6 separate regions of the Homo sapiens genome follow, and regions 1, 2, 3, 4 and 6 are each reported to be linked to region 5. The links are microRNA targets in miRTarBase. Many come from high-throughput screens and were not tested one by one. Region 5 holds a microRNA gene; each other region holds the end of a gene's coding sequence.

Region 1 (4,088 bases), not on the chromosome of region 5:
TAGTGTCTGTCATTGTATTCCACACCACTTCTTCCCTCAGCTAAAGCAGGAAAAGAAAGGAGGTAAGTCTCTCTGTGTTTTTTCTTCCTTTCCCCAAGCCCACTTTGTTACCTTCCTTGGTTGCTGGATGAGAAATTAGTCAGAGGGTCAGAGAGGACCTCAACTTCATATGCTTTAAATAGAGCATATGCAATTTTAAACCATCCTCTTAACCAATTTTTCTTTTCTTTTCAGTTTTTCCCCAGTTATACTTCCACATGATACACCAGAGAAGAAAGATCCTTTCTCATACTGAAGAACACAAGAAATTTGAATAGTTCCTGCTTTCTGCACCTCCCACCAAAACAAACTTTTCAATGATCAAAAAATGCTGCAGATTTTTTGAGTTCCCAATACGTTTCATAGAAAATAAGTAAGAACTATTTTTAAAATATTCAAACAAAACTAAAACAAAAATCCAGTGTCACATGGGCCTGAGATTTTATTTTAGAAAAAGGTTGTTACATAAAACACCCTGGCCAGTTCATTTCAGCATGCTCTTTCAACCAGAAGTTCTTAATATTTATGATGGCACTAGAAAGGGATTTGGCATTTTATGTCCTTCTGTGTCCTTCATGTATCTGATCAATGAAGACCTGTAACACTAAGTACTTGAGAGTTACAGTCTGAATAATGAAGTCGTACCAGCTGAATAGCCCAGCTTGCAGTATAGTTATGTTTCAGTCTGCAGTGTGTTTAGCATTCCCTTGTCAAAGTGCTTGACTGCATGCTGGAAACTTTGTATTTTTGAAGCGGCAAACTCTGTTCTCTGGAATGCTCTGAAGTTATGGCTGGGACCTATCCCCTCACATCTAATGAATGAATTATAAAATGTATATGTCTATGAAGCTTCGGGGTAGTGCCTGTAATCAGAAAACAACTTAGAACCCTTTTGTTTGTTTCCAATTGAGTCATTACTGCCTGCCACTAAGAAACGTGCTTGAATCTAATAAGTATGTGTGTACCGTAAAGAATATATCTTATCTGGAGCTCAGCCTCAATCATGTCTTAACAAAATGACAGGTCTCAGAAAGGGGGAGCTCAATAGCTCAAAAGTGACAAGTCCTTTTCACAGCACCATTCTCAGAACACCTCTGAGTAACGTGTTTGCCAGTAGCTATTCTCACTGATGCACTGATGGCCCTGAAGAAGCGGATCCAGTCACATAGGAAAGGAGGCTGTGTTAGTGAAAGCACATGGAAGGTGTTGCTTTAGAAAGGTAGTCAGGAAAAACATTCAGGAATAGATTTATACACCATTATTGTTTTATTTTTAAATTTTCATTCACTCTTCTGTTTGGATACTTTTGCTAATTAACTTCCTATGTTAATTTCCACCAAGCTATAAGTCCATAGTCAGTAAAACATTCCCCTTGGGCTGTCATGAGCTAAAAGCAGTGTCATCTCCGCATGTTGGAGCAGCCAAGAAATAGTTTGGTACTACCGACATTGTCTAATCCATGTCACATCCTCATACAATTTAATTGCTCAACCATGCATTTAAAACTCCTCAAGAAAGGATTGGTACTGCAACTGTAGGTAAACTGAAAAAAAATAAGAAAGAAAGAGTTGGATGAAAATGTGAAAGCCCAAGTTTAGATGTGCATTAAGTATTAAATAGCACAGTATCTTCTTCATGGAGCCTTTTTTCCTCCCCCATCCCCTGCAGCTGCCTTTTTTTGGGGGCAGGGTGGGGGTTGATGTTGAACTTTAAGAGTTTAAAAGTTTAGCTTATTGAGTAGTTGTCATTTAAAATATAATTGCGAATATCAGAAAACTCATACTGGAAAACTAAATTTTTTTTTTCTCTTGAGACGGAGTCTCGCTCTGTTGCCCAGGCTGGAGTGCAGTGGCGCGATCTCAGCTCACTGCAAGCTCCACCTCCCGGGTTCACGCCATCCTCCTGCCTCAGCCTCCTGAGTAGCTGGGACTACAGGTGCCTGCCACCACACCCAGCTAATTTTTTTTGTATTTTTAGTAGAGACGGGGTTTCACCGTGTTAGCCAGGATGGTCTTGATCTCCTGACCTCGTGATCCACCCGCCTCAGCCTCCCAAAGTGCTGGGATTGCAGGCATGAGCCACTGCACCCAACCCCTGGAAAACTAAATTTTTAAGTGCTTATTTTTATAGAAGTTTGAAAATTTAATGCAGGCAGGTGTGTAATAAATTATTTTTGAATTGAACATTAAAATTCTGCTTCTTAAAGTCAGCACTCAACTTGGACATGTTGAAATTAGAATCTATTCTTGTATTTGATAGACAAAATATGTGGGAAAGATTTTTTGCATGACTTTTCTCTCATTTTATTCTTCCATAATGTATTTCTACTATAAAATAGAATCAACTTGGGTTATATTTGTCATTTACTTTGTTCTGTTAGATTTTTTCAGTTGTTTTTGGAAAAATTCTAGAAATCAGGATGAAAAATGCAGCTTTTCCAGGGTTGCTGGACTGGGGGTTTTATTTGGGCCTCCTTATTATAATTTGTCACTACTTATAAAAAACATTCTGTTGCAAACAGTGGTGTTGCATTGAATTGAACTTTGGCAATGAGAACACAGCACACAGCTCCCTTTTCAAAAAGGGTCTCAACCCCAGTGTGTATTTTTGTACATCAACATTTAGAATACTTATGGCAGATAAGTAAGGCATGTCACTGTGTCCTTCAGTAACCTCTCTCAGTAACTGGTTTCTTTATCCCTAACATGAATTCATTTCTCCTTTGAAGTCATTTATTATTTTATAAATTGAGAACAACCACACCACCAAATGTCACACCTTCTTATAAAGTGTGAACAAGGAAGGTCATGTTTTTGTGGGTATTTTGTCAGACTTAGAGGTTTCATTTCAGGGCATAGTCAAAGGCATCATCCTCCCAACTACCCACTTGATTATGTATTTCAGATCCCTCCGTGGGGGCCTTCTTCTGACAGAGAATTCTTTGAGGTCCGCAGTAGTGCTTTTGTCAGCACAGACTGCTAATCTACATCTTGCTGCGTTCTGTTTGCTGAGGTTGGGCTTATTCATTTAACACATACCAACCATTATCCAGAGGCACCATGGAGAGTTAGTCATGGAATAAAGCACTGTCCTTGCAGATGAAAAAAGTCTCCAGAGCAGACTTCTGACAGGAAAGGTTTAGATGCTGGAGAGTTGAAGAGGTGTAAGAAGAGATCGTGCCCTCATTTTTCACTTATTTTTTTGGTTATTCATTTATAATAAAAGGTTGGCATTGATATGGTACAACCTGCAAATTACTTGCAGTTCTGAGTTTCAGATAAAACATTATAAAACATTAAATTCAATACATACTGCTCCTTTGAAATTTGGGTAAAAAATTGTACAACCGTATATATAGTCATTTTTGTATTTTTTCTATGTTGTGAAAACCAAAATTGTAATTTTATAAGTCTTTGATTCACTAAAATTATATAATTTAAATGTATTTTTTGTATATTTAGAAATAAGGAGTCCAGAGACTACGCTTAACTTTCTATGCATGCATTTGAAAGCTGTTTTTACCTGATAATGTAGTAATAAGTTGTATTCATAAAATACTGATCTGTGTTGCATTTCAAAATAAACTGGTGTGTGCTCTGCCTGGATTTGAAATACCTACCAGTGAGTGCAGTGATTTTTCATAGTCAGTAGGCCTGAATGTGGTGTTGCAGGAATATGGGAGAATTTCAGTTCAATTATGGACTCCAGCTCTTTGACAATTTTAAAATCTAATTCTGCTATTCATAATGGTTCTGCACTTACAGGAAAGACAGATTATATTAAGAGGTTTCCAAAAAGTCCTTCCCTGCCAGTCAGTCTTCAGGCTAAGCCAGTCTGCAAGCTGGCTGCAGAGGGACAAGGGGTTCCTCATGCAAGTGACCAGGGAATCTAAGATATTAATCAGCATGGGGTTGAGGAACCTTGTCTTATAACAAGCTGGGGTTTTGTTAGTGTAACTTTTCTTTTTTTGTTTTGAGACAGAGTTTCGCTGTTGTTGCCCAGGCTGGAGTGCAATGGCACGATCTCAGCTCACTGCAACCTTCACCTCC
Region 2 (4,088 bases), not on the chromosome of region 5:
ATCCTCCTGCCTCAGCCTCTTGAGTAGCTAGGATTACAGGCCCGCACCACCACACCCGGCTAATTTTTGTATTTTTAGTAGAGACGGGGTTTCACCATCTTGGCCAGGCTGGTCTCGAACTCCTGAGCTCAGGGCCCACCTTGGTCTCCCAAAGTGCTGGGATTACTGGCTGGAGCCACCGCGCCCGACCAACAGATTCTTGTCGAATGAAGGGGTGGGCTTGTGGTGGCATCCATTTGGCAGCTTGGGGGCCTTGTTCTGCTTTCCCTTTGCCTTCCTGGTTTGGGGTGACTGTTCCTTGGAGGTAAGAGAGGTTGATGATGGCAGATTCTCAGAGAGCTAAGGCGAAACCATTTCTAGCAGTTCGAACTCCCTTTAGTCCAATGGGGGAGGCAGTCCCTCCCTTTGGAATAAGCTCCCCGGGTTCCTCTGGCTTTGATGCCCCTCACTCTGTAGGAGACCTCAGTCTTAGGGTTGTGCTCTCGAAGCCTCTGTTTGTGAGCCCAATTCAGGAAGGGGTGGAGCTTCACTCCCCCTCAGCTGGGTGCTCCCTCAGGGTACCCTTGGCTTTCTCTGCCACTCCAGGCCTCAGCTCTGTAGGGCAGGAAGAAGCTGGTGGCGGAAGGGCTGTGTGGGCCTGTAATCGTCCAAGGGGTTCAGGTTGCGTGCTGCCTAGACAGAGCCGATTTATCAAGACGGGGGAATTGCAATAGAGAAAGAGTAATTCATGCAGAGCCGGCTGTGTGGAGACCAGAGCTTTATTATTACTCAAATCAGTCTCTATGAGCACGTCGGGGGCAGAGTTTTTAAGGATAACTTGGTGGGTTGCGGGGAAGCCAGTGAACCAGGTGTGCTGATTGGTCAGAGATGAAATCACAGGGAGTCAAAGCTGTCTTCTTGTGCTCAGTCAGTTCCTGGGTGGGGGCCACAAGATCAGAGGAGCCAGTTTATTGATCTGGGTGGGGCCAGCTGATCCATCAAGTGCAGGGTCTGCAAAATATCTCAAGCCCTGATCTTCGGAGCAGTTTAGGGAGCCTCCAGCGGCACGACTCCTAAACCATAATTTCTGATCTTGTGGCTAATGTTAGTTCTACAAAGGCAATCTAGTCCCCAGGCAAGAAGGAGGTCTGCTTTGGGAAAGGGCTGTTACTGTCTTTGTTTAAACTATAAACTAAGTTTTTCCCAAAGTTAGTTCAGCCTATGCCTAGGAATGAGCGGGGACAGCTTGGAGGTTAAAAGCAAGATGGAATCAGTTAAGTTAAATCTCTTTCACTGTCTCAGTCATCATTTTGCAAAGGCAGTTTTAGGCCTCTCCCTCTCCTCTCATCACAGCCCACTGGCTCCCTGATGCTGCATGTGGTGACAAGTTGGGACCTGGGCCCAGGCCGCGGGAACTCTTGCCTCAGGCCTGGGTTAGCTGTAGGCTGGGCTGTCTTGGTTCCTGAGCCAGGTTCCAGCATTTCCTGGTGGGAGAGTTTGGGACTGACACAGTGTGTCTCCCAGAAGAGCGTGCCTTTTCTCTCCCTCTGTCCCAGGCAGAAGGGCAGATGCGGGCAACATCACCGAGGCTGTCCAGCTGCCTCACCAGGCTTCCGTGGTTTCTCAAAACCCAGGGTCCTGTGATCCCTGGTCCATGGCAGAGGTGAGGATGGGAGTGAAGCCAGTTACGTCACCCCCTCCTGCCTGCCCAGTGGACAAGCACAAGCCCGGGGTCAGGATGCAGAGGGAGCAGTCCGGGATTCTGGGGCAGTCGTTCCATGCAGGAGCCGCTCTGAGTGTGTCGGCACAGTCCTGGCCAGTCCAGCAGATGGACTCTGGTGGCAGGGGCTGGGGAGCAGAAGGGGAGATGGGAAGCTGGCCTCCAGCCCAGCAGGAGCACCCCCGACCAAAGGGGTGGTGGAGGGGCTGAAGACAAGCTCAGCACCCGTTCTCTTCACCAACAGGCCACAGGTGCCCAGGAAAATGAGCAATACGAGATCGGAGCATTGATAAAAGTGACTTTATTGAGTTGTCCAGGGTCTCCTTACTTCCCCCAGCTCTGCAGTCACCCATCCCCAGCTCAGTCATAGAGGAGACCACCTTCCCCCCAGAAGAAGGAGCTCAGGAAACTAATCAGTGTATAAAGGAGAGGACGGAGAGAAATAGGGAGTCTCTGGTTAGGGACCTTGAGTCGGAGGAGGGGATCCTCAGTAGAGGGCACAGGAGGAAGAGGAGCCTGGGGACAAGAGAAGCAAGAAGCCAGGGGAGGCTCTCAGTAGAGGCGGAGGGAGAAGACAGGAGGAGCCCACAGTGTCCTTTTAAATCTGGCCACAGCCTGGCTTTTGACCTCGCCTCCAGCTTGGTTCCACCCACCTTCCCCTTGCCCCTCTTTGCACCCTCTCTTCCAGCCCCAGGGTGAGTCTTGCTGCTGCCCAGACATTCTGAGTTGTTGCACATCTTCCTTGCCTTGTCCACACCTTTCATCTAGGGGCCTTCTCTGCTCTTGCTTTTCTGTCCAAAGCTCTCCCTGTTCTTTTTTTTTTTTTTTTTAGAGAAGGTCTCGATCTGTGGCCCAGGCTGGAGTGCAGTGGTGTGATCTCAGCTCACTGCAACCTCAACCTCCTGGGATCAAGTGATTCTCCTGCCTCAGCCTCATGAGTAGCTGGGATTACAGGTGCCTGCCACCACGCCCGGCTGATTTTTTGTATTTTTAGTAGAGATGGGTTCCTTGGAGGTAAGAGAGGTTGATGATGGCAGATTCTCAGAGACCTAAGGCAAAATCATTTCTAGCAGTTTGAACTCCCTTTAGTCCAATGGGGGAGGCAGTCCCTCCCTTTGGAATAAGCTCCCCGGGTTGCCTCTCGCTTTGATGCCCCTCACTCTGTAGGAGACCTCAGTCTTAGAGTTGCGCTCTCGAAGCCTCTGTTTGTGAGCCCAATTCAGGAAAGGGTGGGGCTTCACTCCCCCTCAGCTGGGGGCTCCCTCAGGGTACCCTTGGCTTTCTCTGCCACTCCAGGCCTCAGCTCTGTAGGGCAGGAAGAAGCTGGTGGTGGACGGGCTGTGTGGGCCTGTAATCGCCCAAGGGGTTCACGTTGCGTGCTGCCTTGGGTGATCCACCCACCTGAGTCAGTTCGGGCCTGGCGCGCTCACGCCTGTAATCCTAGCACTTTGGGAGGCCAAGGCGGGCAGATCACGAGGTCAAGAGATCAAGACCATCCTGGCCAACATGGTGAAACCCCAACTCTACTAAAAAATACAAAAATTAGCTGGGCGTGGTGGCGCGCGCCTGTAGTCCCAGCTACTCAGGAGGCTGAGGCAGGAGAATCACTTGAACCTGGGAGGCAGAGGTTGCAGTGAGCGGAGATCCTGCCACTGCACTCCAGTCTGCTGACACAGTGAGACTCCATCTCAAAAAAAAAAGAATCAGTTCAAACATCCTACAGCGAAGCCTTTGAAATCGCCCTGGGCCAGGTGCAGGCTCCCTCCTCAACCTGCCCCCCCACAGCCCCTCCTCCCTTGCTCCCACCCCACCTGCTGTCATTCTCTGTTATGGGTTTTCTGAGTCTAGCACAATCCAGGCACAGAGTAGGCACCAAAAAACTCCAGGCACCAAAGATGGTGTTGGTTAAGACGACACAGAGAGAGAGAGAGAGAACCAGCACAGGTATTTAGGGGGAATAAAGGAGGGAGGGGTGGGATGGGCTTGGGGGCAGGGGTGAAGCTGCACAGGAGGCAGAGGGGGTCAGAGCAAAGGAGAGGGCATAGGGGCAGGAGTGTGGGGTGTGGCTGGAGGAGCATCCTGGGTCATCAGACCACTGTGCTGAGGATGGAGGAGTCCTCGGAACGCACGGGCAGCACTGGGGCCCGCTTGAGGGAGCGCCTGGTCTCATCTCGGTTCTGCCACACATAATGCACCAGATAAGCCACCATGAGTGTCAGCCAGCCCCCCATGGTGACCAGCAGGGCCACATCGGTGCTCCTCCGGGCCCCACCCCACCCCGACCCACACAGCTCTTCCTCCCCTGCCAGCAGCAGGAACTCCTGCCCCACGAGGTCCGGTCGGGCTCCTGAGCCACACACGATGCCTGTCCCAGTGCCCGGCACCAGCC
Region 3 (4,088 bases), not on the chromosome of region 5:
GGACAGACACCCTGTGCAGCTGGCCACAGAGGCCTCTGCGTCAGCCTGGTCCCAGGTGCTGTGGGTCGGAGGCCTCTGTGTCAGCCTGGTCCCGGGTGCTGTGGGTCCCTTCTCCTTGGCGATATCTGACACCTCCACGCTGACAGAGGGCTCTTCCCTGTGCCCCTCTGCAGGTCCGCTACACACAGCTCGTGAGGAAGAAGCAGAAGGCCCAGCACCGCTGCATGCGGCGGGTTGGCCGCACTGGCTCCCGGCGCTCCGGCTATGCCTTCTCCCATCAGGAGGGCTTCGGGGAGCTCATCATGTCTGGCAAGAACATGCGGCTGAGCTCTCTCGCGCTCTCCAGCTTCACCACCCGCTCCAGCTCCAGCTGGATTGAGAGCCTGCGCAGGAAGAAGAGTGACAGTGCCAGTAGCCCCAGTGGCGGTGCCGACAAGCCCCTCAAGGGCTGAAGGCCGAGGATGGATGCCCTGTGCCAGTGACCAGAGCACCCAGGGCTGGCCAGTCACTGAGGGAACAGCGTCTCGGAACTGCTGGTCCTCATTCCTTGCTTCCCGTCCCCCCGGTAGACTCTGTCCTGCTGGTCCCACCACACATGGCTGGGACATCTGTTCCCAGCTGTAGGCCCTTCCACCAGCTGGGGAGCTAGAGGGAGCAGGCCCAAGGGCAGAGCAGAGGCTGAGGCACGGGGAGCCAGCCCCACTCGGGGACCAGAAGTGGAACCAAAAACAAGAAAAAACTGTGAGAGATTGTGTCTGCCCCTGCCCTGCCTGGGACCCACAGGGAGACTATAATCTCCTTATTTTTTTACTCCTACTCCCCAGAGGGGCCCTAGTGCCTCTGTTCCTGAATTACATAAGAATGTACCATGCCGGGAAGCCAGAGACCTGCAGGGGCCTCGGCCCCTCACATCGTGTATGTCTCTCCTTGATTTGTGTTGTGTCCAGTTTGGTTTTGTCTTTTTTTATTTGGCAAGTGGAGGAGGCTTTTATGTGACTTTTATGTTGTGGTTGGTGTCTTAACTCTCCTGGGAAAAGGAGGCTGGCACACACTGGGATGCCGCAGCCTGGCCGGCTGTGGGGTGGTTTGGGAGGATCCATGTCGGCTCTGCCTGCAGTGACCAGTGCTCTGTGGGGCAGAGGAGCTGACCAGGGAGGGAGGTACCCATGAGCAGAGGGTAGTGGGAGAGTGTAAAGGAGGGTTTGGTCCTGTCTGCTTCCTCACCTTGAGAGTAAAGTGCTGCCCTCTGCCCCCAACACACACACATATCAATTCCTGGATTCCTTAGTCCTGCTGGCCTTGGGCTGGAGCCTAGGAAAGTGGCCCCCAAATCCTTAGTGAGCTAAAGCTGGGTCTGAAATTTGGTCAGTGGGGAGGGGTAGTTTTCTTTTCTTTTTTCTTTTTCTTTTTTTCTTTTTTTTTTTGAGATGGAGTCTCACTCTTGTCACCTAGGCAAGAGTGCAATGGCACAATCTCAGCTCACTGCAACCTCCACCTCCTGGGTTCAAGCGATTCTCCTGCCTCAGCCTCCTGAGTAGCTGGGATTACAGGCACACACCACCACGCTTGGTTAATTTTTGTATTTTTAGTAGAGATGTTTCACCATGTTGGCCAGGCTAGTCTTGAATTCCTGACCTCCTGACCTGCCCACCTCAACCTCCCAAAGTGCTGAGATTACAGGCGTGAGCCACCACACCCAGCTCAGGGAGGCGTAGTTTTCTTTAATTTTAAATTTAAACCCAAGTTTATTGGCAGACTCCCTTTTGACCTCCCTTTGCCTCCCCATCTGGTGCTTTCTTGCATCTACACCCCAGGGCCCTGTGGTGGGGCTGCAGGGGGAAGCTGTGCACCTGAGATGAGGCTGGAACGGGAATTGGCCTCTCTGCTCCCTTCTTCAGTAAGCAAGGAGCCCCGCCCCTCAGGCCCAGCCTCTGGCAAGAGGTGGTGGAATCCTTGTGCCGGGTAGTAGAGGAGGATAAGGGCAAAACCAGGCCCAGGCCAGTGCCTGGCTTGGTCTGGATGGGACACTGTCAGAGTTTGGCCACAGCCTGTCCTTTACTTCATCCACACCTATGAAGCTATTCCCTAAATAAGGCATTTCCCAAGTTAGTCGCTACCTAATCAGCCTTGAGAAGAATCCTTTCCTCTTCTTTGATAGTGGGTCGGGGGATTCTTCAGGAATGGTTTGGAGCTGGGAGTGGGTAGGGGGATTTTAAATGTTCCATATGGGAGCCCCAAAGGAACTGGATGGGCTGCAGTGAGGTGGGGGCGGGTGGGCAGGGAATGGGAGAGGGGAAGTCTTGGCAGGGAAATCCCTTTTGGCCACACAGTTTACAAACCCAGTATCATGTCTGTCTGTGTGTCTCTCAAGGTGAGAGTCTGATTTTTATACCAAAGAGGAAATGATTTTTTTTCATATTTTGTTTGTCTATATTATATAAATATATATATACAGTTATATATATATATATTATTTTTTGGTTCTCTCTCGTTTTTTAGGGAGGGAAGAAAGTACCAAGTTGCATTGAGCTGTAATTAAGGAACATTATAATTTATGACACATTTCTATACTTGCAAAAATTATATCATTTTATGGATATAAGAGAAAAATGCCTTTTTATAAAATTTCAATTTCTGAGAAGTGTGTAATTTGTCTCTTTTCTGATGTTTAACCAAGACTGGTGGTGAAAGTAAAGACAGAAACTGTCTCTTAAATGTAATTGAGTGGGTAGATCTGGGATATCTTGGACAAATTGGAATCTGACTGGTGTGGGATAGCACCTCATCCATTTGCAGACCTCCCGGGATCTGAGTTTCAGCTGAAGATGAAGACGGGGCAGTGGGTGGTACTGAGCGGCATATCGTATGGACTTTGGCTGGGTGCCTAGGACCTTGAGCTGTTTACCTTTCTCCAAACGCAGGCCAACCTGTCATCCCTAACACACGCCAGATGGATGTGTGTGTAGGGAAAGTACCTGGTAAATATTGTAAGGTTTTGTTTTTTAACTCTGCGCTTTTCCGCATGCCTCACATCTTCCTGGCTTCTCAAGTGAGTATCAAGGAAGCTAAAGTCTTATATTAAAGGGAGCTTTCCTCCAGGGAAGGGAGGGCGGATGAGGATGGGGTCCTAGGAGTCAGGGCCAGGGTTAGTGCTGGCCTGAGGAGAAAGAAGTATAGCTTCCTCCGCCGATGGCCAATATCAGCATGATCCAGCCCCACCCGCAGGCTAATTTCCCCCTGACCCAGCCAGTCTTCAGTTATGGAACAATCCTTCTCAAAAACGTAGACTGGGTGTGGTGGCTCAATGCCTGTAATCCCAGCATTTTGCGAGGCTGAGGCAGGAGGATCACTTGAGCCCAGCCCAGGAGTTCAAGACCAGCCTGGGCAACATGGGGAGACCCCGCCTGTATTAAAAAAAAAAAAAAAAAGGGTGGGGGAGCGGAGGGTGTATGGGGGGAAGATGTGAAGATAAGATCTGTTTCCCTCTTCAGGAGAAACGGCCCCTGGCGGGAATCCCGCCACAGACCGCCAGGAACACCACCTGACACCCACCTCCACCCAGGGAGAGGCTGTCCAGTCCACACAAGCCTTTCTTTGGGGTCTGTCTGGAACCCTGAGCTTTGGGCAGCAAGTGGCATCTGGCTTCAGTGCCCCCACCCCCGAAACACAGAAAGAAGCCTTAATCCCTTGAGGCTGGTGAGGCCCCAAGTCCACCCCTCCCACAAGACAGGTCTTCAGCACTGCGCTGGCCTCCCGTTGGGGGTCTGTTCAGCCACTGGGAATGTCTTCCTTGGCTCCTCTCGCTGACCCTGGCTCTCCTGCACCCAGGATCCTATTATGTGTGTCTGAGGGGCAGGGCCAATGTCATTTTAACTTTCATTGCCTCTTGGGGACGCGTTTTCTCCGTCGCGATATAGACACACGCCTCCACGGAGGCTCCGGGCACTCGGGCTCCCCGTTTTCTCCCCTCTGCCGCAGGCATCCCTGGTCTTCCTTCCCTGCGCTGACTGAGCACCTGGGCTCCTGTGGGAGTGGCTTCCAGCCCCTAGGTCCCCATCGTCCTAGTGCCTTTTCTGAGTGCGTGGAGG
Region 4 (4,086 bases), not on the chromosome of region 5:
ATACGGGGTTTCCCCATGTTAGCCAGGATGGTGTCATCTCCTGACCTTGTGATCTGCCCACCTCGGCCTCCCAAAGTGTTGGGATTACAGGCGTGAGCCACCACGCCCAGCCCTATATTCTAATAGTTTTTATTTATTATGTTTATTTAAAATTTTTCATCTGTCTCAATACTTCTGCTTCAGATATTATATGTTACCCAGTGTAGGAGGCGGCCTCCAATATAGCCCCCCATGATTCCTGCCTCCTGGTATTCATGCCCTGTATAGTCCCCTCCCATGTTGTGCTAGGGTTGGTCTATGTGACCAGTAACACAGCAGAAATGATGGTCTGTCTTTTCTGAGGTTAAGGTAGACATTGTGGCTTCCGTCTTGGTCACGGTCTCACCTGCTCGTTAGGATGACATGTTGTGAGGAGCCCCACGGAGATGCTCAGGTGGTGAGAAATTGAAGCCTTTTGCCAACTGCCCGATGAGTGGGCCATGTTGGAAGTGGGTCTGTCAGCCAAGTGAAGCTGTCATCTGACTGCAGTCCTGGCTGCCAACTTGAGTAAAACGTCAGGAGAGACCATGAGTCAAAACTACCCAGCTAGGCTGCTTCCAGATTCCTGACCCTCAGAAACTGTGATGGTTTTTATTGTTTTTTTTTTTTTTTTGGAGGCAGAGTCTCACTCTGTCACCCAGGCTAGAGTGCAGGGTCACAATCTTGGCTCACTGCAACCTCCGCCTCCCGGGCTCAACCGATTCTCTTGCCTCAGCCTCCCAAGTAGCTGGGACTACAGGTGTGCCACCATGCCCAGCTAATTTTTTGTATTTTTAGTAGAGACGTGGTTTCACCATGTTGGCCAGGCTGGTCTCAAACACCTGACCTCAGGTGATCTGCCCGCCTTGCCTCTCAAAGTGCTGGGATTACAGGTGTGAGCCACCACACCCAGCTCAGAAACTGTGATGTTTTAAGTGGCTAAGTTTGGGGTAATTTGTTATCCAGCACTAGAGAATGTCCAGTTTATTTTTTCTTTGGTGGAAGTCATACTGCCCTGGTGTCTGGTTATTTTGGTGGTGAACTTACATGCCCCTGAAATTATCCGCTCTCCTGGCTGATAGAACGTACTGAGGAAAGGCTGAAGGCCTGACTCGAGTCAGCTTAATGACCTGGAGCTCCAGGGGTAAAAGGATGTGTGGGAGAGGAGCCAGAGGCTGGACAGCCACAGGTACCACAGAAGCACAGTTATCCCGCTCACCTGCCCTTTGGACACCTGACAATCCCCCTAGCGTGGGGTTCATCTTTAAACCGTCGGAGGAAAACCGCTTTAAGAGGTGCCAGTTTTGGCTGGGTGCGGTGGCTCACGCCTGTAATTCCAGCACTTTGGGAGGCCGAGGCGGGTGGATCACCTGAGGTCGGGAGTTTGAGACCAGCCTGACCAACAAGGTGAAACCCCGTCTCTACTAAAATACAAAATTAACCAGGCATGGTGGCAGGCACCTGTAGTCCCAGCTACTCAGGAGGCTGAGACAGGAGAATTCCTTGAACCCGGGAGGCGGAGGTTGCAGTGAGCTGAGATCGCGCCACTGCACTCCAGCCTGGGTGATGGAGCAAGACTCTGTCTCAAAAAAAAAAAAAAAAAGAGGTGGCAGTCTCCTTAGGTGTAATCCACCAGCCCGGGTGTCTGGAGGGAGACAGGTGGAGGACTGATTTCCTCTGGCTGCCTATTTCTTTCCCCTGCAGGGCCCTTGCTGCCCTGATCCTAGTCCCCCAGACATGTGTACCAGTGGTTTGGATGATTAATGCAATGAAGGGGGCAAACAAGGACCTCCCCAAGGCAATATAGGGGAGAGGTGAGAGCCAGAACTTAAATATCTTTTTCCCTAACCTATCCTCTATTTACTGCCTCTGGCCATCCGCCCGTCAAAACACACACCAGTTAAAGACAGCCTTCCATTTCCCCATGGGTCTCTCATTGCTATGTTGCAATTTCTGGAACCCATGTTTCCCTCTCTAGTTTCTCCAGAGTTGGTTTCGGGCAAAGGAATCAGTAGCTTGTGCTGTCTGCCATCTTTGCAGGAACCAGAAACCCCAAGTATCCTAGAGGAATATTAGAGGTTTCTGCCTTTCAGGGTATCTGAGCCTCCTATTCACAGAAAGGACTCTTCTATCTCTCAGAGGTCCCAAACTACTATCCACAGAATTGGCTTGTCTGGTCCTTCAAACACCTGAGCTCATAAATCACAGAATGCATCCCAGAGGGTATTAGCTGTTTACTGACAAAAGAGACATTTCAGGACCTCAGAAGGCCAGACACTCCCATAGGTTGGATGGCCCTTTGGGGAGTCTGAGCCCATTTCCACAAAATGCATTCGTTAGACCCACACACAGTGCTTGAGCCCCCTAGACACAGAATAGTCTTGTCCTGTTCTTCAAGTGACTGGGCTATCATCTGAGGAATAGTCAGCTTCCCCCCAATACTGGGGGTGACGGGAGACTTTTAAGGGTCATCCCCAGGTTTGTATGGCATTCTTGGGGCAAACAGCAGAAGGGATGACTGCCCTGATGCCTCCTCATCTCTGGCAGCATTGCCTAGTGCAACAGCTCTGGCCAGAACCCAGCCTGGTCTACAGCCATACCATCCTGAACATGCCAGATCTTGTCTGACCTCTGAAGCTAAGCAGGGTCAAGCCTGGTTAGTACTTGGGAGAAGCTGGTGTGGCTAGACCGTGACCTGAGGACCCCAGTTATTTCACCCATCCTTTGTGGATGACAGCACCTGGCCTGTGAGAGAATCCCACCCTCTGAGCATGTCAGTGGGAAAAAGGACCTTTTTTTGATCATTATCCTCCAAATAACGAAGTGAATTCTATTAGGGCCTGCGTTTTATCAGTGCTTGTTGTTTGTCCATATTAGTGAGATGGAGAAGGTAAATAAGTGGTTTCTACTGCTGAAATGGTTAAGACAGGTGCTGTGAGCTGGAATCCCAGTTTAGGGCCGCTAGGCATGGGCTAGGCCAGTCTTTCAAACTGGCTCCAAAGCAAGTGACAAGAATAGGAGCCCTAGATCCTTTTGTAATTCAACAATGTGATGATTGGGCTTTCACACTTGTGTGAGATGCACCTCGCTCAAACCTTGTTAACATCTGCACGGTACCTGTCTGAAGTGGAAAACAAAAAGGAGGCCGAGGCCCCTGCCCAGGGCTGCCAGCATTGGTGCATAAACCTCACAGAGAGGCCAAGATCCTAGAAATGGTGACATGTGGAATGCCAGGGGTGGCTGCTCCAACGTTTCTAAGTAGCCCATACTTCCCAATCTCAGTAAAGAATCTTGTCCTTTTTTGAGCCAGGAACTCTCTTATCTCTCATCCAGGGGGCTGTCCTGAAAACATATATTCACAGCCATAATACAGACCCTTACAGGCCGATGGATGTACCAAAAAAACAGACTCAGGCCTTCCTCAAGCAGTGCTCCACCTGGGCTCACCTTTGGGAACTGATTGTCAGCATCCACTCTCCCCATCACAAGGGGGAAGCTGGAGCCTCTCTCCACCAAGTGAAGTATTTCCCCTCCATCAGGTAAAGGGCCCCTGAGGACTCCATCTACAGCAAAACCCAGGGAGGAGGCAGAGAAACACACAAACCACAGTGACCTTCATGTGTGCAAAGTATAGTTGTTAAAAACAAAACAACAGAAACAGAATAAATAGGCGTGGCCTCTGCGGGGCAGTGCCAAAGCAGAGCTCCACATACTTAGGCCTGGGGAGGAAGGGCTCTATGCTCCAACAAGTCTAGGGCTGGCAGGCAGGGAGGGAGGTGGGGTCTCATGTGTTGGCCCTCATGGCAAAGAATGGAGATCTGGTGGGGCCGATGGAGGGCTTGAGAAAGCCTGATCAAGATGCGGCTGTGGCCTCAGCCCCCTCCTCTGAGTCCCACACCTCTGACTGCAGGTAATCAGCAAAGAGAGCCCTAGCCCGGCGCAGGACGCGCCCCAGGTGGTGTTTTCGCACAAGGCGGTCAAAGTGCATGGCCAGCTCATTATAATCCAGCCCATTGCGCATGATGTGGTCGCGGTGCTCCAGCAGGATGGCCAGGCAGAGGAACAGCA
Region 5 (4,088 bases):
CATCCATCCACTCTTTCATTCATCCATTCATTCCCCCATTCCTTCAGTGGCAGTTCATTGACCACCTGCTGTGTGCCAGGCGGGAGCAGCAGGGGAGAACCCACCCTCAAGGAGATGCCACTCCAGGGGACACGGGCTGACCAAGACCCACAAGGCAGGGGTAAGGTGTGCCCAGAGGAATGAGACCTGAGGAAATGTAAAGGGGAGGAGACAATGTGCATGTGTGTGGTTGTGTGTGTGTGGGGGGGGTGATGTGCATGTGTGTATGGCACGTGTGTGCATGTGCTATGTGGTGTATTTTGCATGTGCTATTTGTGTTTATGTGAAGTGTATGTGTGTTGTGTGTGTACCTGTGTGTGTGGTGTGCCTGTGTGGTGTGTGTGTGTGCCTGTGGGGAGCTGTGCCTGTGTATGTGGTGTGTGTGCCTGTGTGTGTGGTGTGTGTGGTGTGTGTGTGTGTGGTGTATGCCTGTGTGTGGAGGTGGTGTTTGTGCATGTGCCTGTGTGGTGTGTGTGCTGGCGTGTGTATGGTATATGTGTGCGTGCCTGTGGGGAATGTGCCTGTGTGTGTGGTGTGTGCTGCATGTGTATAGTGTGCATGCCTGTGTGTGTGGTTTGTGCTGTGTCTGTATAGTGTGTGTGTGGGTGTGGTGTGTGTGCCTGTGTGTATGGGGTGTGTAGTGTGTGTGGGGTGGGGATTGAAGTGCTCTCCTGGGTGACCAGGGCCACTGGGAAGGTTCTCTCTGCCTGGAGCCCAGCGGGCAGGAAGGGCTTTGCAGGAGAGGGAACAGCAGGGCAGAGGCCAGAGGGAGTGGGGAGAGGAAGGGGAAGTGGGAGGGGGCTGGTGTGGCCTGAGCAGAGATGGGGAGGGAAGCCACACGGGGCAGTAACCCAGACGCAGGCTGGGGGCGGTGCAGACCCATGAGAGTGGGTCACACTCCGGCTCCAGGTGTTTCAAAGATGGGGTTGATGGGATTTGCTGAGAAGAGGAGGTCGAAAGTGAGACGAGAGAATTCCAGGAGATGCTCAGCCACAGGCATGACCCCCACAGTGCCGCAGGAGCACACACACACGCGCACACACGTTTACCCACTGACAGCTGTGGCCTGGTGAGACCAGGCTGAGGACAGCTGCCTCAGCGACCCAGGCTCAGATGCCACCAGTGCCCCATGTGGCCTCGGGGAATCTGCTGCTCAGAGCTCCTGTCTGCCCATTTGCACATGGGACCCATGAATGGAGGAGGCACTCTGGCCATGTGGCCAGAGGCCCCGCTCCTGTCCTGCAGATGTCTTGGTGACGAAACCCGATCCATGCATGTGGAGGAAGGTGGGGGCATCCCTGGAGCTGGCCTGTGCCAGGCCAAAGTGCTCCTTTGAGCTGCCCAGGGCTGTCCTAGTGAGTGTCCTCAGGCTCTGGCCACCCAGGAGGGCCAGGGGCGTCTGCATTCGGGAGTGGGTTGGAGAAGGGGACGATGGGAGAGCAGGAAGCTTTTGCAACTGCTCCAGGGCCATTGGGAGGGTGCAATTGGCTGACACCCGGAACTTCATTGATGCTTACCCCACGTGCCCTCTGTGTGGGTCCCGCTCCCAGTGCGGACACCACCTCCTAGCTCTCACTAGCTCATGCAGGCCTCTGGGGCCCTCCTGAATCCACACCTCCCAGGGCTGGGTCCTGGTTGTTCCCCAATGGGGAGCTGTGCCTCTCTATCACCAGCAGGCATGTGATCACACCTCCCAGGAAGCACAGGATCACACCTCCCAGGAAGCACGGGATCACACCTCCCAGGAAGCACGGGATCACACCTCCCAGGAAGCACGGGATCACACCTCCCAGGAAGCACGGGATCACACCTCCCAGGGAGCACGGGATCACACCTCCCAGGGAGCACGGGATCACACCTCCCAGGGAGCATGGGATCACACCTCCCAGGGAGCACGGGATCACACCTCCCAGGGAGCACTGGATCACACCTCCCAGGGAGCACCGGATCACACCTCCCAGGAACCACGATATCACACCTCCCAGGAAGCACAGGATCACACCTCCCAGGAAGCACAGGATCACACCTCCCAGGGAGCACCGGATCACACCTCCCAGGGAGCACCAGATCACACCTCCCAGGAACCACGATATCACACCTCCCAGGAAGCACAGGATCACACCTCCCAGGAAGCACAGGATCACACCTCCCAGGAAGCACAGGATCACACCTCCCAGGAAGCACGGGATCACACCTCCCAGGAACCACAATATCACACCTCCCAGGAACCACGATATCACACCTCCCAGGAACCACGATATCACACCTCCCAGGAACCACGATATCACACCTCCCAGGAAGCACGGGATCAGACCTCCTGGGGAGCACGGGATCACACCTCCCAGGAAGCACAGTATCACACCTCCCAGGAAGCACGGGATCACACCTCCCAGGAACCACGATATCACACCTCCCAGGAAGCACAGGATCACACCTCCCAGGAACCATGATATCACACCTCCCAGGGAGCACAGGATCAGACCCCCCAGGGAGCACAGGATCACACCTCTCAGGAAGAACAGGATCACACCTCCCGGGGAAGACGATAGCACACCTCCCAGCGAGTGTGAGATCACACCTCCCAGTGAGCGTGGGATCACACCTCCCAGGAAGCATGGTATCACACCTCCCAGGAAGCACAGGATCACACCTCCCAGGAAGCACGGGATCACACCTCCCAGGAAGCATGGGATCACACCTCCCAGGGAGCACCAGATCACACCTCCCAGGAACCACGATATCACACCTCCCAGGAACCACGATATCACACCTCCCAGGAACCACGATATCACACCTCCCAGGAACCACGATATCACACCTTCCAGGAAGCACAGGATCACACCTCCCAGGAAGCACGGGATCACACCTCCCAGGAACCACGATATCACACCTCCCAGGAACCACGATATCACACCTCCCAGGAAGCACAGGATCAGACCTCACAGGGAGCACGGGATCACACCTCCCAGGGAGCACGGGATCACACCTCCCAGGGAGCACGGGATCACACCTCCCAGGGAGCACGGGATCACACCTCCCAGGGAGCACGGGATCACACCTCCCAGGAACCACAATATCACACCTCCCAGGAAGCACGGGATCACACCTCCCAGGAACCATGATATCACACCTCCCAGGAAGCACAGGATCAGACCCCCCAGGGAGCACAGGATCACACCGCTCAGGAAGAACAGGATCACACCTCCCAGGGAAGACGATAGCACACCTCCCAGCGAGTGTGAGATCACACCTCCCAGTGAGCGTGGGATCACACCTCCCAGGAAGCATGGTATCACACCTCCCAGGAAGCACAGGATCACACCTCCCAGGAAGCATGGGATCACACCTCCCAGGAAGCACAGGATCACACCTCCCAGGAAGCACGGGATCACACCTCCCAGGAACCACGATATCATACCTCCCAGGAACCATGATATCATACCTCCCAGGAAGCACGGGATCAGACCTCCCAGGGAGCACGGGATCACACCTCCCAGGAACCACGATATCATACCTCCCAGGAACCATGATATCACACCTCCCAGGAGGCATGGGATCAGACCTCCCAGGGAGCACGGGATCACACCTCCCAGGAAAGCACGGGATCAGACCTCCCAGGGAGCACGGGATCACACCTCCCAGCGAGTGTGGGATCACACCTCCCAGGAAGCACAGCATCACACGTCCCAGGAAGCACGATATCACACCTCCCAGGAAGCACAGGATCACACCTTCCAGGAAGCACAGGATCACACCTCCCAGGAACCACGATATCACACCTCCCAGGAAGCACAGGATACACCTCCCAGGGAGCACAGGATCATACCTCCCAGGGAGCACAGGATACACCTCCCAGGGAGCACGGGATCACACCTCCCAGGGAGCACGGGATCACACCTCCCAGGGGAGCCACAGGTTCTTAATGGGACAAGGCCAGCGCTTAGCAGAAGTGTTCCTGGTGTTTCTTGGTGTCTGCCCATCAGTGGCCCCCACCTGGCTGCCTGTTGAAGTCATCCGGGGAGCCCCCTAAAAGTACGCATTCTAGGTCC
Region 6 (4,088 bases), not on the chromosome of region 5:
AGCTCAAAACCCCCAGCCTGTGCCACTAAGGGAAACTCACTCCCTCTGCCATTAGGATTGTCACCATGGAAATGAGCAGACCTACTGCCTCCAGTGGAAACTGGATCTCTCTCTCCAATCTAGTGATCCCTCTTTCTAACCAGCTAGTCTAATTAGCAAACTATTAAAGACACGTGAACTTTCCTTTGTACCAGTTATCATTAGGTGAAATGTTTCCTCATTACTTTCAGAATTAAGTATACAATTCAGTATGCACAAGCACACATCAGCTATAAGGGCGTTTTCTAACTGGCTATCCAAAATAAACCCATCTTAAAAATAAACAAACCAATCCACCTGACGAGTGATGTGTGGTGTTTTTCCTCTTTCTACATTCTATATTTTAATTTTCTATAATTTTTCCTTTTTAATAATGAGGGAAAACTTTTTTTTTTTTTCTGAGATGCAGGTTCACTCTTATCGCCCAGGCTGGAGTGCAGTGGTGTGATCTCGGCTCACTGCAACCTCTGACTCCTGGATTCAAGTGATTCTCCTGCCTCAGTCTCCCAAGTAGCTGGGATTACAGGTGCTTGCCACCACACCCAGCTAATTTTTGCATTTTTATTAGAGACGGTGTTTTACCATGTTGGCCAGGCTGGTCTAGAACTCCTGACCTCAGGTGATCCGCCCGCCTCAGCCTCTCAAAGTGCTGGGATTACAGATGTGAGCCACCATGGCTGGCTGAGGGAAAACTTTTTTAAAAACTCTAAATATAACCTTAAAACATTCTTCAAAACCACTGCAGTGAAAAATATGTATTTGAAAATTGCTGATAATCCTTTAAATATTTGCTTCTTTAATCTCAGTAGCCAAAAATCTGATTTGCTGTACTTGAGTCACTATTTTTCAACTTAATTTTCTTATCACCTTATCCTATGTCAAAAGTCACACATCAAATGTTCTAATGGAGAATATCATTTTTCTGCAATAACTCCAAGCATTTTAAAACACATACTCAAAATTCATGATCATTTAACTAGTAGTTTTTGCCCAGGTTTTTTTCTAACTGTAACTGACTCCCCCTTACCATCAATTCAAGGACTGTGGCAATCAGACTAGACAGGTTCTACTAATGGATGTATAAAGAGACTCAAAACCAAAGAAATAATTCCCTGACTTCAACTCAAATTTTAGTAATTATTATTTTCCTTATTAATTTCCCTATTATCCTGAAGATACAGGTTACATCCCTCCCTGTACAACTTTTTAATGCAAACTATACAATCAAAAAAGTCTGATCTCTAGGAGAACACTAGTCATATGCTACTTTATAACATGGAATATAATTTTTTTCACAGAGAACAGTTTTTTTTAATATTTGCACTTTAAGATTTTTTTGTTTACATTAAGTTCTGGGATACATGTGCAGAATGTGCAGGTTTGTTACATAGGTATACATGTGCCATGGTGGTTTGCTGCACCTATGGGAACAGTTTTTTTTAAACAAAAACATTTTTTTTAATACAGAGTTAAGGCCGCAGGCTTATATTTCACATCTAAAAACAGTACTCTGAATAGAAATGTAGGGCTTAGCTTTCTCAGTGGAAAACAACAACCATTCCAGCAGATTTTCTACAAGTTAATTTAAACACGATCTTTTTAGAGGAAAGCAGTATTTATTGTATAAGAGTTATACTTATTAATCAAAGGCACAAACGAAAACTAAGACTTAAAGTTGACCATAATATTGACAAGTCATATCAACCTGGTACCAGCTAAATTTAATGAAGATAAGTTCCACTGAATTCCTAAGGAAAATACAACAATTCCGACACCATTTAATAATTAGAAACTTTCAAACAAGAGGGAAAGTATGAACATCATAATAAATGCCTCAATTTGGAGGCAAAGAAATGTAAGTTGTGTGCTGAAACCTGATGTATCACAGAACATCAGTAGTCCCTTCCAGTCGTGGATGCCTTAGACCCAAGGCCTTACACTGTTATCACCATCTGGCAACCCTGATGAGGGATGCCATCTATTGACTGACTGAAATTAAATTACACAATGTGACTCTCTGCCTGTCAGCAGAACAGAGAGTCATAAAACATTTTAACTTCTTGGTGCAAATTATACAATCAAACCAGATAACCTTGACTGGGAAGGAGCCAGTTCAGAGGGGTGAATTTTCTATCACACTACATCAATAGCAAAGTCAGAGGAATCAATTTTCCATCTTGTAACACTACATCAAAATAGCAAATTCACAGTGCCTTCCAAAGGCCCCCTACTAAGAAAAATAACAGTCAAGAGGAACACAGTATTACTTCATTTACAATTTACTAGCTCTTCCAGTGTTTCAGAGGGATACAGGGTTTCAACGATCTAACATGAATGGGATAGAAGGTGGACTTAGAACATAGCAAACATACATCTTGATTGAATCAGCCCACTGCGAGCACGGATCTTGATTGAATCAGCCTATTGGTGTAGTTTTAGGTCTACATACATCTTGATTGAATCAACCTACTGGTGTAGTTTTTTGGTCTATCAGTAAGTAGTGTTGTCAGTTCTCCAGCCAAGCAACTTTCTAATTCACAGGGGGGACCCTAAATGTCCTAAAATTAAAGAAAAAAAGTTAATGTACTTGTTACCCAAATTTCAACATCTGTATTTGCTTACATACATTCTAATCTATTCCTGCTAATGAAGACCTTCCTATGTGTTCCTAGTCAGTGGCTCAAGTAAAATGCAAAGTGTGCCCTAGGGATCAATTCAGCCAACAACAGTTCTCACAGTATTTTACCAGTCAAATACTAACGCCATTGAAACACATGTCTTCCCAAAATCTGGTTCCTTATTAGACCAGATGAGTTTACGGTTTTAACAAAAGCCCACCAAAAACATCTTTTTACCAAGAAAGCCACACTCTCAACAACTGATTAAGATTGTGGTAAATGAAAACTACGAAAAGGACTAAGGAAAATGTCAATATTGGTGAGGAGCAGAGTGCACCTGCCAGGGAACCTCACGAATAAGGTCATTCTTGGGATTCTTTGTTTCTCCTCTCTCCAGGCCAAAACATGTTAAAAAAGGGACCACTTATGATCTTTAGGCTGACATGTGTATGTAAATATATAAACCCACACGGGGAGTCTTCTGTTGCATAACTGTAGAGAGCATGCATAGATAAGCTGTAGCTAAGTCATTACTTTCTGACCATGCCCTGTGTATAGAGACCTAACCTGCCTACACAGGGTTTACATAGCACCAGCTAGATTTAAATATATTACTAGACAAGACGTTCTTGGCAAACTTAGTCCATGCATCACATACACAGGCTAGAATAAATATCAACACTAACAGAGCTGAGGACCAAAATGAACGCACCTTAAAGGTAGAGAGGAATAGGCCCACAGATACATTGGGTTACACTATCTCATACTGGTTATTTGTTATGGCACGAGAGAGGCAGTAGGCGAGAAAGATTCCAATCAGCTAGAAATAAAATAGGAACAAAATTAAATACATACACAAAAGAACTTGAACACCTCAGACTATATTCTCCTCTCACTTGTAATTCGCTTATAATTTTCGTCCTTGAGTTTTTCTAGAGTTATGTTTAATACTCTGCAGCATCTAGATCACATTCAAAGAATCTAAGTGAAGTTTTATTGCCACTGTGACCCAGAATTTCACAACTCTCACCAAAGGAAAATCCAGCAAACTCACTCAAGGAAAATTCAGTCACGAGTTTTGAAGAAACTTTTCTTACTCTCATTTCCCAGAAAAAACAAATACATGGTTTTCAATAAGTATCTTAACAAGTGAAATCTCCATCAACGAGGGCAGAGATTTCCCTGGAAAGATCCACAGCAATGCTACAATAATGAAAATGTTCTAGAATCCCTGTACTGTCCGATATAGTAGGCAGCAGCCACATGGCTACTAAGTATTTCAAATCTCCAGCAAACTGAGGTTTTAATTTTATTTAATAATTTATAACAATTCAAAGGTGGCTAGTGGCTACTGCATTAGCATAGATTTAGATATAGCTTTGCTTACTACTTTAAAAATATATTAAGACGAAACTTGAATTAGTCTTATTT

What was found. The annotated mature microRNA hsa-miR-3689d reads GGGAGGUGUGAUCUCACACUCG and lies in region 5 at 2,601-2,622, opposite strand. An mRNA with a match to its seed (bases 2 to 7 or 8) in the 3' UTR can be bound and repressed. Matches are read on the target gene's strand: a 7mer-m8 pairs with bases 2 to 8, a 7mer-A1 pairs with bases 2 to 7 and ends in A, and an 8mer does both.
Region 1: miRTarBase lists HACD2 as a target of hsa-miR-3689d. Seed matches in the 3' UTR shown: 7mer-m8 at 331-337 and 7mer-m8 at 1,917-1,923.
Region 2: the mRNA of LRRC3C is a reported target of hsa-miR-3689d. The part of its 3' UTR that is shown has no 7-base or 8-base seed match.
Region 3: miRTarBase lists ATP8B2 as a target of hsa-miR-3689d. Seed matches in the 3' UTR shown: 7mer-A1 at 1,488-1,494 and 7mer-m8 at 1,493-1,499.
Region 4: the mRNA of TBC1D25 is a reported target of hsa-miR-3689d. Seed matches in the 3' UTR shown: 7mer-m8 at 3,791-3,797.
Region 6: miRTarBase lists TSPAN6 as a target of hsa-miR-3689d. The part of its 3' UTR that is shown has no 7-base or 8-base seed match.

What each region holds. Positions count from the first base shown.
Region 1 is chr3:123,491,117-123,495,204 of GRCh38, reverse strand. HACD2 (3-hydroxyacyl-CoA dehydratase 2) reads left to right here. Exons shown (of 7, transcript NM_198402.5): 7 at 235-3,651. The coding sequence ends at 317. Among named protein-coding and RNA genes, the nearest start is that of ADCY5, 44 kb to the right of the region's middle.
Region 2 is chr17:39,944,433-39,948,520 of GRCh38, reverse strand. LRRC3C (leucine rich repeat containing 3C) reads right to left here. Exons shown (of 4, transcript NM_001195545.2): 4 at 3,522-4,088. The coding sequence ends at 3,787. Among named protein-coding and RNA genes, the nearest start is that of GSDMA, 17 kb to the left of the region's middle.
Region 3 is chr1:154,348,667-154,352,754 of GRCh38, forward strand. ATP8B2 (ATPase phospholipid transporting 8B2) reads left to right here. Exons shown (of 28, transcript NM_001370597.1): 28 at 174-2,638. The coding sequence ends at 452. Among named protein-coding and RNA genes, the nearest start is that of ATP8B2, 25 kb to the left of the region's middle. RefSeq lists enhancers at 1-648, 649-1,632.
Region 4 is chrX:48,560,761-48,564,846 of GRCh38, reverse strand. It overlaps TBC1D25 (TBC1 domain family member 25), which reads right to left. Exons shown (of 6, transcript NM_002536.4): 6 at 2,238-4,086. The coding sequence ends at 3,872. Among named protein-coding and RNA genes, the nearest start is that of RBM3, 12 kb to the left of the region's middle.
Region 5 is chr9:134,847,060-134,851,147 of GRCh38, forward strand. MIR3689D1 (microRNA 3689d-1) reads right to left here and starts at 2,623; the gene lies at 2,550-2,623. MIR3689C (microRNA 3689c) reads right to left here and starts at 2,310; the gene lies at 2,239-2,310. MIR3689A (microRNA 3689a) reads right to left here and starts at 2,505; the gene lies at 2,428-2,505. It overlaps MIR3689B (microRNA 3689b), which reads right to left and starts at 3,213; the gene lies at 3,066-3,213. It also overlaps MIR3689D2, MIR3689E, MIR3689F and LOC101448202.
Region 6 is chrX:100,627,390-100,631,477 of GRCh38, forward strand. It overlaps TSPAN6 (tetraspanin 6), which reads right to left. Exons shown (of 8, transcript NM_003270.4): 7 at 3,370-3,477; 8 at 1-2,597. The coding sequence ends at 3,409. Among named protein-coding and RNA genes, the nearest start is that of TSPAN6, 7.4 kb to the right of the region's middle.